3 separate regions of the Homo sapiens genome follow, and all the other regions are linked to region 3. Evidence: fine-mapped expression QTL. A gene starts in region 3. Each other region holds a variant in brackets. All regions are shown on one strand. Distances are from middle to middle. Region 1 has its middle 260 kb from the start of BMP7-AS1. Region 2 has its middle 160 kb from the start of TFAP2C. Region 3 holds the start of TFAP2C (transcription factor AP-2 gamma).

What was found. PIP is the estimated chance that this variant, and not a neighbour inherited with it, causes the effect. A credible set is the group of variants that fine-mapping cannot tell apart.
Region 1: its variant is the best candidate, but not a certain one, in a credible set for the expression of TFAP2C in testis (GTEx, PIP 0.72).
Region 2: its variant is the best candidate, but not a certain one, in a credible set for the expression of TFAP2C in fibroblasts (GTEx, PIP 0.73).

What each region holds. Positions count from the first base shown.
Region 1 is chr20:56,949,822-56,955,039 of GRCh38, reverse strand. No RefSeq gene overlaps it. Among named protein-coding and RNA genes, the nearest start is that of BMP7-AS1, 260 kb to the left of the region's middle. The variant C/T (reference allele first, on the strand shown) is at 2,487.
Region 2 is chr20:56,786,565-56,791,782 of GRCh38, reverse strand. No RefSeq gene overlaps it. Among named protein-coding and RNA genes, the nearest start is that of TFAP2C, 160 kb to the right of the region's middle. RefSeq lists enhancers at 1,904-2,662, 2,663-3,422. The variant A/G (reference allele first, on the strand shown) is at 2,481.
Region 3 is chr20:56,626,301-56,631,518 of GRCh38, reverse strand. It overlaps TFAP2C (transcription factor AP-2 gamma), which reads right to left and starts at 2,213. Exons shown (of 7, transcript NM_003222.4): 1 at 1,927-2,213; 2 at 1-314. The coding sequence starts at 1,974. RefSeq lists silencers at 1,892-2,186, 2,243-2,302 and an enhancer at 3,666-4,426.

The DNA of each region.
Region 1 (5,218 bases), 320 kb before region 3:
TGGAGCTGCTGGGACTGCGTGTGTGGCCCAAGGTGAAACCTGGCCCGTGGTGACAGTAACACACTGTGACAGCTGTCACAACTCCTCTTTGGTCATCCTGCCATGAAGGCACAGAGCAGAGGAGCGATGACTGGGGTCGGGCACAGAAGATGCCCAGGGCACCCGGGCGCGTTTGGTTTACATATCCACTCATTTCACTCCGGGAACGTCCGCAGAGCTTATCCTTCACGCCAGGTGCAGGGCCAGGGTAGGGGACTGTCACGAGCAAGCTGGGTGGGATCCCTGCCATCCAGGGGCTTCGTGGAAGACGATGAGCCCGCAGATTTCACCAGGACAACTTCAGATTGTGACAAGTGCTATGGTCAAAATGGGCGGGATGATGCGTGGTAGCCACGGCGCAGGCCAGTTTTCACCAGGACGTTCACGGAGGGCTCTTGGGAGAGGGAGCTTTGGAATTGGACCTGAAAGTTGGGGTTAGAAGGCGGCCTGGTGAAAGGCAGCCTAGTGGGGGCTGTTTGGGAAGAAGGAATGAGAAGACTTACGGGTTTCCCAGGGAGAAGCCATCCTGACAGTGAGAATGGAAGTGAAGTGGAGTCTGGGTTTGGGGTTTCTCAGACTAGAAGGCATTTTCAGAAACAATCTAAGGACTACGGTTTTTCTGCCATAGGCAATTTCAAAAAACTGTAATCATTCATAACATAAATAGGAAGTCCAACAAAGTTCTGAAATGTTCCACTACTTGGAGACCTTTTATATATTTTTATTTTTATTTCTTTATTTTTATTTATATTTTGAGACGGAGTCTTGCTCTGTCACCAGGCTAGAATGCAGTGGCGTGATCTTAGCTCACTGCAACCTCTGCCTCCCGGATTCAAGCGATTCTCCTGCCTCAGCCTCCCAAGTAGCTGAAATGACAGGCGTGCGCCACCATGCCCAGCTAATTTTTGTATTTTTAGAAGAGACAAGGTTTCATCATGTTGGCCAGGATGATCTCGATCTTCTGACCTCAAGTGATCTGCCCGCCTCAGCCTCCCAAAGTGCTGGGATTGCAGGCATGAGCTATGGAGCCCCGCCATATATATTTATTTTTAGAAGTAGGGTCTCTGTCACCTGGGCTGAAGTGCAGTGGTGTGATCCTAGCTCACTGTAACCTCAAACTCCTGGACTCCAGGGATCCTCCTGCCTCAGCCTCCCTAGTAACTGGGACTATAGGTGCACCACCACCAAGCCTGGCTAATTTTTATTAATTTTTTATTTTTTATAGAGACAGGGTCTTGCTCTCTTGCCCAGACTGGTCTCCAACTCCTGGGCTCAAGCAATCTTCCCATCTCAGCCTCCCAACGTGCTAAGACTACAGGTGTGAGCCACGGTGCCCGGCCGAGACCTTTGATTTTGGAAATATCGCTCATCAATGCATTTCCCTATGGTTTTGCTCTGTTCCTGGCTGTCCCTGCTTTGCTGGTGCCTTCACTGTGTGCACTGCAGCTGAGGAACCTGGGACGGGTGTGGACACTAGGGTGCCGGGAGAAGAGCTCCCTGCATGGGTGAACGGGCCCAGGGCCCCAGGACTGCACACCTGAGAGAGGCTTCGGCCCAGCCACTGGTGGGAGATGCGCTGACACCACGGGGCTCCGATGCCATCTGTGGAGAATGAGACATGCCCGAGCCAATTCCCACCCCGGATACCTCGAATGGCTCTCCCCTCATCGCTAGACAAGCCATCCCCTTCAGCGGGAGAGGAGCGAGGAGTGGCCATGACTGACAGTCGCGAGGCAGGGCAGTGGCCCCTGCGCCAACTCATTCACAACACCTGTCATCACGTGCTGTCAACAGCATGCTCAGTTATGATTTAATTTATGCCTCGCGTGTCATGAGCCAGCACAGACTGTTTTTAAGCCATCACGTGGACTCCTGTTGATGAGCCGAGTTTCTCTGACAGGTGTTTGGGTTGGACTGACTTGGCGGCTCCCTGAGAGCCTTCCCGTCCCTCGTCCTGGGTGGAAGTGGGCAGTGGGAAGCCCCAGGCTGGGAAACTAACAGCAGATCTGGGAGGGGAAAGAGAGGACGGGAAAGGGCCACCTGTGGTGTGGGCAGCTCCACCACGCACCGGCCACTGTAAGGCAGAAGCTCTGACAGTCCACTGAGCTTCCAGAACTGCCTTCGTTCCTCAGCCGTCTGAGTATGAATTTCTGTACTGTGCTTAGGGCCAGATTCTCACTACGTCTCAGCCTCGCGTGGTGGCTGTAAATAATCCTGTGCCTATATGCACGGAGATGTCAGTACATAATTGATCTTTTGAAAAATGCCAGCCGATGGAAGTGTGTGATTTACCTTTGACAGACTGTGCTCACATTTGAAATGTAGAACGGGAGACTCTGTTCTCCTAGCTCGGCGCCGTAGTTTGCAGATGCTCATGGGAGGAGAGCATTGGAATGCCATGCTTTTACAATTCTAAATGAAACTCAAACGTTCTATGTTTCAATTTG[C/T]TTCCTTTTTGCAAGAACCGATTTTCTGTTTTACATAGTTTTTGTTTTTTTATTCTACCCAGTGTTGCAATCAAAGAAGAATTTTTGCACCAACTTGTTGTCACGTGATGGTAAAAGACGGTAAGGAAATATACACACTTCCCTTAGATTATACGAGTTTACAAATGAAAAGAAAAGGGAATCCAGAAAAGTAATCAACTTGCCCAGTGCCTCAGTTATGCTGGTCATTTCCCAGAGCTGCTCTAACACTTCACTAAAAGTTTCATAGACTAAAACAACACTATTGTATTATCTTCCCATTCTGGAGGCCAGAAGTCTGAAATGTATCTCATTGGGCTATAATCAAGGATCAGCAGGGCTGTGTTCTTTTCTGGAGGTTCTAGGGAGAAGCCATTTTCAGCTTCTAGAGGAAGTTCTGCCCACCTTGTTGCCTCTCAGGACTTGCTGCAACAACTGGACATCGGCTGGGCATGGTGGCTCATGCCTGGAATCCTAGCACTTTGGGAGGCTGGGGCAGAAAGACTGCTTGAACCTAGGAGTTCAAGACCCGCCTGGGAAACATGGCGAAACCCCATCTACACAAAAATTAGCTGGGCACAGTGGCATGTGCCTGTAGTCTCAGCTACTGTGGGGTGTAAGGGGGTGGTGCTGAGGTGGGAGGATCACTTGAGCCCGGGAGGTGGAGGCTGCAGTGAGCTGTGATCACGTCACTGCACTCCAGCCTGGGCAATAGAGCAAGACCCTGTCAAAAAAAAAAACAAAAAACTGGACATTCTTGGCAGTTGACAGTGACATTGGACATCCAATACTCACCAACATCTGGTCTTTTAAATTCAAAAGGAATAAAAGTCTTGAGCCTGTGGGTTGAAAACCAGACCCGAGCCATCCTTGTTTGTCACAAGTCCTCCGGGAATGTGTGTGTTTGCCTTTCCTTGCTCTTCCCTTGAAGAATGCCGCTTGCACAGTTCCTGTTTCCAATTATCAGTGGCCAGTCCAACCACCAAGCCTGAGTGTATCAGTTTCAGACAGATCATAATTTTTGAAAAATACCACTTGCTATGAGTGGCATCAAGAAAAATCAAGAAAAAGCTACATTAAACAGACAAGTCAATTCTTCATTTAGGAGAATGCTCTTTAACACTGCACAGAATGTTTCCGATGTTCAGAGAGTGGTTTTTCCATTGCAAACTGGCCAACTCTTGCTTTTCTGCTTTTTAATTTTTGGTCAATCTGGAGCCACCATTTGCAAGTGAAAACCGCCCTTTGTTTGAGCAGGGGCAGGTTGTAGGGCATACTGCCGTTTCATCTCTACCCCAGAGCACCTCGCACTCAGGCAGTGGTGTGGAGGACCGAAGCCATGTGTGCAGGAACCACACCAGAAGACCAGATATGCACAGAGGGAGAAAGTCCTGAAGGTGGGGTTGCCTGGCTGGAAGGCCAAGTTTGTGATCTAATCACTCCTTTCTTCATTGTGTGAAGATGACACTCTCTTCATCTCTATCACTTTCTTTCTCTTTCTTTCTTTCCTTCTTCTTTCTTTCTCCCCTTCCCCTTCTCTCCCCCATCCCCCTCCCCTCCCCCTCCCTTCCCTTCCGTTCCCTTCCCCTCCCTTCCTTTCTTTTCTTTTTTCTTTCTTTCTCTTTCTTTCTTTCTTTCTTTCTTTCTTTCTTTCTTTCTTTCTTTCTTTCTTTCTTTTTTCTTTCTTTCTTTCTCTCTTTCTTTCCTTTTCTCCTTTCTCTCTTTCTTCTCTTTCTCTCTTCTCTTTCTTTCTTCTCTTTCTCTCTTTCTTTCTTCTGACAGAGCCTTGCTTTGTTGCTCAGGATGGAGTGCAACAGCACGATATGATCACGGCTCACTGCAGCCTCCATCTCCTGAGGTCAAGTGATCCTCCCGCCTCAGCCTCCTGAGTAGTTGGGCCCACAGGCACATAGCACACACACCCCCAGCTAGTTTTTTTATGTTTATTACTTTTGATATTACAAAAGAAAGCATTCATGTTCTTTGTGAGTATCTTTTAAAGAGAATGTGAAGCTTATGAAGAAGCAGGTACCTTGAGAGAGATTTTAGAGGCTGCGTGTAGTCCAAAACCCAACCCTGCAAGCCACTTTCCCTGTAAACTTCGTTCTTCTTGTCTGTAAAATGGGGGATAATAATGGCCTCTGTTCCTGGGAGTTGCTAGGAAGATTAAATCAGATGCATCTGAAGACTCTGTACATCACAGCTCTCAACAAATGGTAGTTTTAAAAATCTTCTCATCATATTATTTCAGATTGGAACTGTGAGTACCCTTTTAATTACCCTTTTTATTTCTTAACAGGCCAATTTACTTGGTTACTATGTATGCATTTGTTACATTTTTGCCATTTATGAGAACAATTCCACAAACCACATTCAGTGATTTAAAAACCAGCAATAATTCAGCAGAGCTCCGTGAATTCCAGCTGAGGGGTTAGGGGCTTGGGGGAAGAGATTTTGTTTGTTTGTTTGGTTTCATTCATTGCCCATGTCTTCTAAATAAGTATAACCAAGAATTGTTTTGACCATTTCTGCTTCAGGATTCGATTTAAATACAGATTAACCTAGAGGGCAATTTCAGCAAATATCAGAATCACACACTGCTTGACCTGGAAATCCCATATCTGAGGAGGCACCCTGCTGAAACGTGTCATTGACATGTGCCTGGCTACACGTTTTCTGCAGCACTCCAATAACTGGGGACGGTGTGAAGAAGA
Region 2 (5,218 bases), 160 kb before region 3:
AAGGGTAGATGAATGGATGGGTGGACAGATGGATAGAGGAGGATGGATGGATAAGGGAATCGATGGATGGATAGACAGATGGATAGAAAGAAAAGATTATCCAGTATTTACCAGAATGAGGCCTCAGAAGTAACAAAGCTATGGAAGAAAAAGCAAATACGATGTGTTTATGTTATACGCAGGAGTAAAAGGAGGTGGCAACTTTGCTGGTTTGGTCTGTGATTGAAACAAAAATTCTCTTGAAAACAAACCTCCAGTCAGTTTTGCTTCTGCAAAGCGAACAGGCTTATAACCTCATTACAAAGATAGTCCATGTCACCCACTCTCAGCCTCCCGGGCCATTCAGAAGATTTGGTCCAATGAACAAAGAACCTAGATAGGAAAGCGGCAGCAGGAAGAGGACAGAACCAAACCCTCTCAAAAAGCTATAAAAAAAAGCTCCAAGTTCAGGGAGGAAAAGTAATCATCCTGTAATTTGCTGTTCACTAATGGAATCTATTAATTTATAGCCACAAAAGAATCAGCTAATTTGTGGTTAATGGTGTTTAAAAGATAAACAACATAGATTAAATCTATGGAGCCCAACCCAGGTTCACCAGAATCTGTCTGCACAGAAAGCTCTGGATGGGGGAGAGATGAGCCCAGCCCCAGGCTGCGGTGGACAGTGGCGCTCAGAGGTCTGCTGGGAGCAAAAAGAGATTTGGGTGAAACAGGTAAGCCCGTCCTCCAAGGTACCACATGTAGTCCCAGAGGAGGCTTATTTACTCCATAGGTTTCCTGTAAAATTGCAAATCCTCTCCTCCCTGACACAACACCATCCCTGCTCTCTCCTGCAGGGACCACCCCACCCCACTGCAGCAGTCTCCCTAACCTGCCACATTCCTTCCCACCTCTGGCCCTTGCACTTCCTGCACATGTAGCTGGACGGCCTTTTTTTTTTTTCTTTCTTTCCTGGGAAAAATAATCCAGATTATGGAGAGTTAACTTACTGAATGTCCCCTTGGAGAAGAGGCATTTCACATAACCACATCTCAGAGATTCCTGAACATCTCCCGTGAGACTGCTCCTATCCCATTCTCAGCCCCATTTTACTGGTCAGAAAACTGAGGGCTAGAAAGGTGAAGCAGCTGGCCCAAAGCTTCACTGTACATGTGGGGTGGGTCTGAGATTTGAATCCATGTCTTTCTGCTTCCAGAATCTGAGGGCTAGACCAGCATTTCCCAAAACTTACTTTTTTTTTTTTTTTTTTTTGAGATGGAGTCTTGCTCTGTCACCAAGGCTGGAGTGCAGGGTCGGGACCGCTGTTCACTGCAACCTCCGCCTCCTGGGTTCAAGTGATTCTCCTGCCTCAACCTCCCGAGTAGCTGAGATTACAGGCATGCGCCACCATGCCTGGCTAATGTTTGTATTTTTAGTAGAGATGGGGTTTCACCATGTTGGCCAGGCTGGTCTCGAACTCCTGACCTTAAGCAATCCGCCCGTCTTGACCTCCCAAAGTGCTGAGATTACAGCCGTGAGCAACTGCGCCCAGCCTTACTCATTCTCATAACAACATTTTTGCCATGTCTGCTACCACCTATATGTATGATATTTGTTTAAATGGACTCCCTGCCACTTTTATTTTTTGTTAATTTTAGTTTCATCCTGAACAATGTTATCCAGGTCTGATAAGTTAATAACATAGTTGCTTCTAACATAAACTTGGAATAAATACCTGACTACTAAGATAAACATGTGCCTGTGTCCTGCCTTATAATCTTATAAACCTCAGTGGTTCAAGAACTACACACATTTTAACCACACATCCCAAAAAGTCATAATCACACGGTGTGTGTCCCGCTCACCATAGCCTGCATGCACTATCAAGTTCTAGCCTCTGTCAACCTTCTCCTGATATAAGCCACCCTTGAAAATGCACTGGGCCAGGCGTGGCGGCTCACGCCTGTAATCCCAACACTTTGGGAGGCCAAGGCGGGCAAATCACGAGGTCAGGAGTTCGAGACCAGCCTGGCCAACATGGTGAAACCCCATCTCTACTAAAAATACAAAAAATTAGCTGGATGTGGTGGCAGACACCTGTAATCCCAGCTACTGGGGAGGCTGATGCAGGAGAATCACTTGAACCCAGAAGGCAAAGTTTGCAGTGAGCTGAGATCAGGCCACTGCATTCCAGCCCAGGTAACAGTGAAAGACTCTGTCTCAAAAAAAAAAAAAAGAAAGAAAGAAGAAAGAAGAAAGAAAAGAAAGAAAGGAAGGAAGGAAAGAAAGGAAGGAAAGAAAGAAAATGTATCAAAAGCCCTCCTTTTTCCTGAAGGCCTCTTGACTCCTCCAGCCCAAAAGCGCCCCTCCCTTTGTTGACAGCTAGAAAATTCATGCCATGAGCAAGCCACAAAAAGACAGGATAAAAAACAGGATGTGGCTTTTGTTTCTTCAAGTAGACTGGAAGATCTTGGAGGATTATAAAAAAAAATGAAAACAAA[A/G]CAATTCCTATACCTTGAAGTCTAAGCTCTGGGAAACAGAGATGGACGCACACAGCAGGTGCTCAATAAAGCCTGGGGGAAATGATGGATGTGGACACAGTACAGAGAGGGGGCCAGGCAGCACTTTCATGGCTAGGTTGGGGCCGGCCTGAATCATCCTTCCTCCTTTGCTAACAAGGGTCAAAACTTCACCTGGGGATGCTCCCTCCCTTCCCACAGCCCAGGGCTCCAGGATGGGCCTGGGACACAGCCTGCCCAGTCCATGCAGAAAATCCCCCTAGCTATTCCCATTGGTTCAGAAAGCGGGTCTGTTACCCAAACCTGGCTGAGGGAGTCAGGCCCAGCATTTTTGTTCAAATGGATGAGGATGGAGCAGCTCTTTCTTGCCAGCTTGAACCTGGGAGCCGTGGGCCTGGAAACACTGTCACCTTCCTGCTCCCACAGGGAGCCTGGGAGTTAGAACCCTTGTGGAAGAGGCAGAGACATAAGAGAGGGCAGGGCTTGGCAATGTGATTTGAGATCCTGGATCAAGACATTCCTGAAACAAGTTCTACCCTTGGATTTTTTTAGACAAACTTTTTTTTCTTGGCGTAAGCCTTTTTGAGTTGGGTTTTCTGTTACTTAGGCCCAAAAACACCCTGGAGGAACCCCTGACTAGGAGCCAGGGAAGCAGACTCAATTGTATCTGGGGTCTAAATGACCCTGGGTGAGTCATTTCATCTCACATGACCCTGCCCCAAAGAGGCCTTCCCTGACCATTCTTTCAACAGCAGCTTCCATCCCTCCCTACCGCTCACTTCCTTGTCCAGCCCCATCATTGCACAATATCACATTCCATATTCATGACCTTGTTTGCTAGTACTCTGCCTCCCTCACTGCGGTGTCCTCAGAACTCAGAATAAGGCTGGCATGCAGACACCTTCTGTAAATATTTGTTGCAGGATCTTGCCTCGGTTTCTGCAGCTGTAAAATGGGAGAGCAGTGCTGCGTTGTCCTCAGTAGCCTGCCATCAGGGCTGCATTCACTTCCTCCTTTCATTGCTGCCACCCAGGCCTCCGGGAACGTGGCACAAGGTCTCACCCAAAGGCGCTGGAGTGCCTCCCAGAAAACTACCTTTCCCACAGAGTAGAAAGTTTTATGATTTTCCTCCATTTCTTCCTCTGCCTACACAATCTCATTGACTAGAAAGTCCCTCTTGATGTCTAACCCAATATTTCATGCTGCAACCAAAGTCTATTTATGTGCATCTTTTCTGAGTTCTGGAGTTCAGCAGCTGGAGTGCTGACTTCCAGACATTCCCAGCCAAGTAAGAACACAAAAGAACCAGTTTAAAGTGAGAAGAAATCCAGTGAGAAAATAAAAATTCCTTTACCTAGGAGATGCCCTCATTTCCTTCCCATGACCAGCTTCTGACTCGTCAGAAAGCTCTTTACTTGTCTCCACACCTATGAACACAGCTCTTCCAGAGATGTGGGTACAGAAGATGAGAGTAAAATAAATAAACTATCTGTTTAATCATTCTTATTGCCAAAACAACGGCTGAGCCAAAATACCGAGGCTCTGATTCATCCCAACTGACGTCCGTTCTAGGGAGGAGGCAGGAGGCAGGGAAGTAAGAATTTTTAAACCCGTTTTCCAGATGAATTCAGAGGAGGCTGGGACGTTCCACAGCGCCAACCCCACAGTAAGCAACAGAAGCGAACCACTTTCTCTTTGTGGTCGAGGATCTGTCTTCTCTTCATTTAAATAGGGCAGAATTCAGTGGCTCGCACCTGTAATCCCAGCACTTTGGGAGGCTGAGGCAGGTAGATCACTTGAGGTCAGGAGTTCGAGACCAGCCTGGCCAACATGGTGAAACCCTGTCTCTACTAAAAATACACAAAATTAGCCGGGTGTGGTAGTGGCGCCTGTAATCCCAGCTACGCAGGAGCCTGAGGCAGGAGAATCACTTGAACCAGAAGGTGCAAGTTGCAGTGAGCCGAGATTGCGCCACCGCGCTCCAGCCTGGGCGACAGAGCAAGATTCCATCTAAAAAATAAATAAATAAAAATAAAAATAGGCCGTCGTTGTGGCTCACGCCTGTAATCCCAGCACTTTGGGAGGCTGAGGCAGGTGGATCACCTGAGGTCAAGAGTTCAAGACCAGCCTGGCCAATATGGTGAAACCCCGTCTCTACAAAAAATACAAAAATTAGCCAGGCTCAGTGGCAGACACCTGTAGTCCCGGCTACTCAAGAGGCTGAGGCAGGAGAATCGCTTGAACGTGGGAGGTGGAGGTCACAGTGAGCTGACATTGCGCCACCACACTCCAGCTTGGGTGACAGAGGGAGACTCCATCTCAAAAATAATAATAACAATAAAAATAAAAATAAAAATAAATGGGGCAGAATTCAAAGGAAGATACACAGTACCTAGGATGCAGATTTCATCATTCATTCACTCACTCATTCATTCATTCAAGAAAATGAAAAGCCTCGACTGAGCACCTTCCCTGTGCCCCAAGCTGGCTGTCTTCCCAAGTCACCTTGCACCTTCCCCACCCCTCTGGGGGAGGAAAGTCAGGAATCATCCACCCATTGGCTGAGTCGGGAGGCTGAATGACGTAATTGTTGAAAACATTGTTCCTAGTCTGTTCTTTGTCTTTTAATTTTATTTGTGGTGTTTCTTGACGTCCAGGGATTGTTAATGTTCATATAGTCAAATCTTTATGTCTTTCCTTTGAGGACTCTGGCCTGAGAT
Region 3 (5,218 bases):
GGGCGCCCGTGGTGCGAGGGCAGCCCCGCTCCCTCCTGGCTCTGGCGGCCGGGCCAGGCCTGCTGCTGGCTGCCTGTGGGCGCCGGCTGGTGCAGGGGGTTGATGGCGGCGGCGTACGCTTCCCCCAGATGCGAGTAGGGGTCGGCCGACTGGGAGTAGGCCAGCTGCTGGTAGGGAGGGGGAAAGTAGGGTGGCGGCTGATATTCGGCGACTCCAGTGTGGGAGAGGGGTGGCGCGGGGCTGTAGAGGTGCTGCCCGGCGGAGGAGAGGTGGGGGACCCGCGGATTCCCATTGCTGCTCCCGTCGTGGCGATCCTGGAGGGAAAAAAAAAAACAGGAGACCCCGTTAGTGCGAAACCCCGCTACTGCGAACTGGCCGGCATCGCCGGGCTACGCAGAGGGCCCCGGGGGACCAACCGCACCCCGCCCGGCGGGGCTTGCCCAGGGTCGGAAGGTACCCGGGGGCAATGCGCCCCGAGGATTTCGTTGTAAGCAAAGAGTGCGGGGAGGGAGGAGAGTCTGGTGAAAGACCTGGGGGAACGAGTTCTCAAAGCCCGGCGGCGAAGGTCTAGGCGCTGCTCCCAAGCCCGAGGCGCTTGGAGGCGCCAAGTCCGAACCCTGGGTCTTGGGCCAGAAAAGTCCGTGGCCGGAGCCCGGGGCGAAGGAGCCAGAGCCCGGGGCGAAGGAGCCGGACGCCCGGTGCAGAGCTATCTCGTGGAGCCCGCCCATGACGCAGGGACTGCTGGAGGTGGCAGCGCGGCAGGCGCGGATAGAGTGCGCGGCGCGGGAAATGCGCACCTCCCCCGCCCCCGGGACCCTCCCTTCCACGCCCTCGGGACAAAGACCTCCGAGCGGGCGGCGCTCGGAAAGCAGGGCCCGCCACCCTGCGCCGCCCTGGGAAGTGAAGAGGGAGCGCGCGCACAGGGCGGCCCTCCCTGCTGGCCGGGCCCAGCCGAGGGGAGTAATAAGTGGGGGCGCCCTGCACTGCCAAGGGCAGTGTTCTCGCACGTCGGGGCGCAGAGGGGGCATGAAGAACCCTGGAAATTGGGCAGCCTTGCCCGCGCACGTTCCCTCGCCCCTGGGCGGCCCGACTCAGTTTCTAAAGGATGCGTCCCCATCTGCCCAGGGGTCTCGGGGCGCCGGGAACCTGGAGGAACATGGCGCTGTCGCCTCCTGGCGGAAGCGCCCGGGCCTGCGGGCAGGGGCAGCCCTCCAGGGCCCGGAGGCGCAGTGAACTCCCGCGAGTCCGTAGCCCGAGCTCCGCGCTCCCGGCGCCCCTGAGCTCGCCTAGCGCTGCCTGCGTCTTCTTCCTCTTCCCGCTCGCCGCCTCCTTCTTCCCTCCCACTCTCCGAAACTCTAGCTCAACCTGTCCGACAGGCTGGAGCACTCGCGAGCTCTTACGGCCCCATCTGGCCTCGGGCACCCCCACCACCACTCCCCAGCCCCCACTTCTTTTGAAAGCCAAACTTCGGTTGTTTTCGTGCTTCCCCGAGGAGGTAGCGGGGCAGGTGACAAGCCGGCCTTGGAGGAGTGTCCGCCAAGGTGTCGCTAGCAGGTAGCCTCATCTGACCCCTTTGGACAGAGACTTCGTGCGTAAAAGCCACGTCTGAGGGTTGCAGACGGGGCACTTTTCCGAGAAAACGGGAAGCAGGGCTGTTTGCCGCTTAGGAAAGCGCCCGGTAAGCTGTGTGGGTGGGATTTGCCATTCTCTTTCCAGGCCTCGTTCCCGAGGGGAGGCTATTTAGGAAAAGGCCCTATACAGGAAAGGGGCCCCGCAGAAATGGACTAAGGGGTGTCCGGAGAAGTGGATCCCGTCCCACCGAGAGGCCAGGGCTCCTATGCCCTCGTCCCCGACCTCGGTCCAGTGGCCCCTGCCTCCCGGACTGTCCTCGGCGGGGCGGGGCTGCACCCCGGAGCCCCAGCTCACCTCGCAGTCCTCTTCGTACTTGACATTATCGGTTATTTTCCACAACATGGCGTCCGGCGTCCCCCAAAACAGTCGCCAGTTAAATCCAGGATCCCCCCAGCCCCCAAGCGGTAAATCCAAAATCGGGGTCACGGTGACCAGGCGTCTGCCGCCGCCCCCGCCGCGCGCGGGCCTTGCTGTCCGGGTCACTGGACACGCATCGGCGGCTCTGCGAGCGTAGATGCTGCCGCCGCGAGTGTCAAGACCGCTCCGCGGACGGGGAAAGCCGCGCCCGAACAGTGTGTCCTGGCGATAGCCGGGGGACCCGAGCGCCTTAATGAGAAGGAAATTATCATAACTCCTCCCCGGGGGCCGGCGCGGAGGCCCAGGCGCCGGGCGGGGCGGCCCCCAGCCAGTCCCAGCCTAGCTCCGCCCCGCACCCGGGCCTGGCGCAGCGCCGAGCCCCACGCTGTGAGGGACGAAGCGCGGAGTCAGTGGGCGGTGCCTCGTTGACAGCCGAAGACCTGCGAGGCCTGGGTCCCCCGACGCGCCTTCCTTCTGTCACCTCCACCGTAAACACACCTGAGATTGGCAGAGCTGGGGGAAGGGATCCAAATACTGAAACCCACCCCTCTTTCGCCTAAACGGCCTTCACTCGTTCCTCCAAAAGACGGATGTCACCTGGAGTTAAGAAACTGCGCATTTGGGGAGCGACTCAACAACCGGGGTCTCCTCATCTCCTAAAAACACATCCCATCCCACCTACACCCCACTGAGGCTTAAGGTCTGAGCTGGGATCATGCAGCTGGAGCCCCAGTGCGCCAGAGACGCCCAGTTCCCTCCGTGGGCACAGCGCGGTCCCGGCCCCCGGGCGGGAGGAGAGAGGAAGGGACTCCTGGGGAGTCTGCCCCAAGGGCCGCAGAGGCAGCAGACGGTCCTACCCGCCCAGGAGTTGCGGACAGCGGCGTCTCGCCGCTGTCGCCCGAAGTGGCATCTCCCGCGGCTGGCTGAGGCCAGGGGGAACCCGCGCGCACTGGACCAGCCCAGCGGCCCGGCCCTGCCCTGCCCTGCGGAACGCCGGCTCTGCAGCTGCCTCTGGCGGGCCGGTCACTCAGAAGCCTCTACTCGCCCTGGGAAAGAAGCGCCGGGCAGGAATAAAACCCGAGCGCCACGGGTAAGGTGAGGGTGAGGAGGTGCAGGAAGTTGGGAGAGAGCCTGCAGAGAGCTCTCGACTGGAGAGGTAGACACCCAGGTCCCACATGTTTAGACAGAAAACGAAACTTCCTTCCACACAAACGCTGCTTCCCTCTCCCCTTCGGTACTTGCCACCCAAACTTGAAAGCAAAGTGCAATACTAATTTTTAAAATTTAAACTAACGAAATTCTTTGGCCCAGTTATTATGCAGCAATTGACTTTCATTGTAAGGGGAACATCGCTAATTCTCGAGGGCGTATTTGTTGGGACGCCCCAACTGGCTCCCTGGGCTGGATTTAAACATTCTGTGGGGATTAGAGGACAAGACTATTTCTATTTGATACTGAATACGATTTTGCAATAATCAATGCCTATCAGTACGGTGTCCGCACCTGCAGTAGACATGACTCTCCCATCCACGGAATGGCGGCATCCACTGCCTCGCTGTTCCTTCTCGGGTTCGTTTGAACTTTAGCATTTATTTAGACCCAGGTGGGCCTAAAAGAAAATAATAATAATAGGCGTCCTCCAAGGGAAACTTTCCCCCGGCCTTAGACAGCAGCCAAATCCCAGGTGATTTTCCGACCGGACGCGGGAACAAAATCTGGAAGTTGAAACCACTGAGACTTTTCGGCCAAGCATATCTGCAGGGCTTTGCACTAAGGAGAACAGTGCATAAAAAGACACACAGGACCCTGACACTTCGGTCCCAAAACAGGCTTCTGGGGGTAAAATAAGTTACCGCAGAAGCAGCGCTCCTGGTATTAGCGGCGGGGGAGGGGGACACCTGCCAGAAGCAGAAATTAGACCCAGGCCCGCAGGCACTCCAGAGCACAGGTCCAGGAAGATGGGTCCTAGACTCGCCAGAGGTGCGGCGCCTCTTTCGGGCGCCTGGGACTCCCTGACGGGTGCCGCTGGGCTGTCCGACATTCTGGGCCTTCTAGCCCTCGGTTTTATTCTCTGACCCGGCCTGAGGTGCAGCTTGAACAAGCTGTCTTGTCTGTGCTGGCAAGTTTACCTCCTGCACGCTGGGGCCCGGAATGGGCAAGAAGGTGCTCATCCCCCATCCCAGGCCCTGGCTCTCCTTTCCCACAGCAACACTAGCCAAAGCTGCCCGGAGGAACCGATATGCCTCCCCGCCTGGGAGCGTCTACGCAGGAGGCGAAGGGAGCCGATGGGCACTGAGGGCTCGCGCAGCACCGTGCCGTGGGCCCAAAGGACCCAGAGGATCCGGAACCGCTTGGCAAAGGCCATTCATTCCCAAGGAGCTTCCCTGGACCCCGGCGCTGCCCTCTTTCCAATGGGTAAGCGTTCGAACTGGAGCGCAACCTCCGCGCCCTCTGTACGGAAGGCAGCTAGAACAAATCCTCTGTCTTCTCGGCACGGGAGACCCTTCCCCAATACGCACATTCTCGGCTTCTGGGCCGGCACCCAGGCACGCGCGCGCCCTTGTGAGGAAGCCTCAACCCTTCCTTGACTTCAACTTTTCTGCTCAGCAGAGCCGGGAACCGAAGGCTCCAGCATCCAAGACAGCCTCCCTCCAACGTCCCCGCCCCTTGCCCACGTGAAGACGCGGACTGCGTGGCCGCGCTCAAGACAGCCGGCACCGGCAGAAGGGGACCCCTCTGGAACCCCGGAGGCCTCGCAGCCGCCTGGAGAAGAGGATGGAAGGTTGTCGGGGGTTCCCCTCTACCGCCCCCTAGGGAGCCTAAACTCACTTACTCCCTGGAAGCCCTGGACCCACGCCCCTATGAAACCGCAAACCAGGCCTCTGCAACAGCGGGAGCGCCCCAACAGCGCGCCACTTCCAAAGAGGCGCGAGGTGGTGCCTTTGGAAACAGGGCTCCCGGCCCCAGGCCTGAGTCATCCGCCACCCCTGCCCCCACCCCAGACGGAAGAAGGCGGCCAGGCGGGTAGAGCAAGATTCGGGCAGATCTGCGACTCCTCTTCCCGCCCCAGGGAGGGGACTCCCGAGCAGAAGATGGAGGCCCCCGAGCGCTTTCGCAGACTCCGCGCCACGCGCCGGACGTTTGTCCCGCCTCTCGGGACAACGTGAGCGCCGGTAGGGACCTCAGTAAGTGGCAGACCCGCCAGGATCAAGCAAGGTGGAAAGGCCGG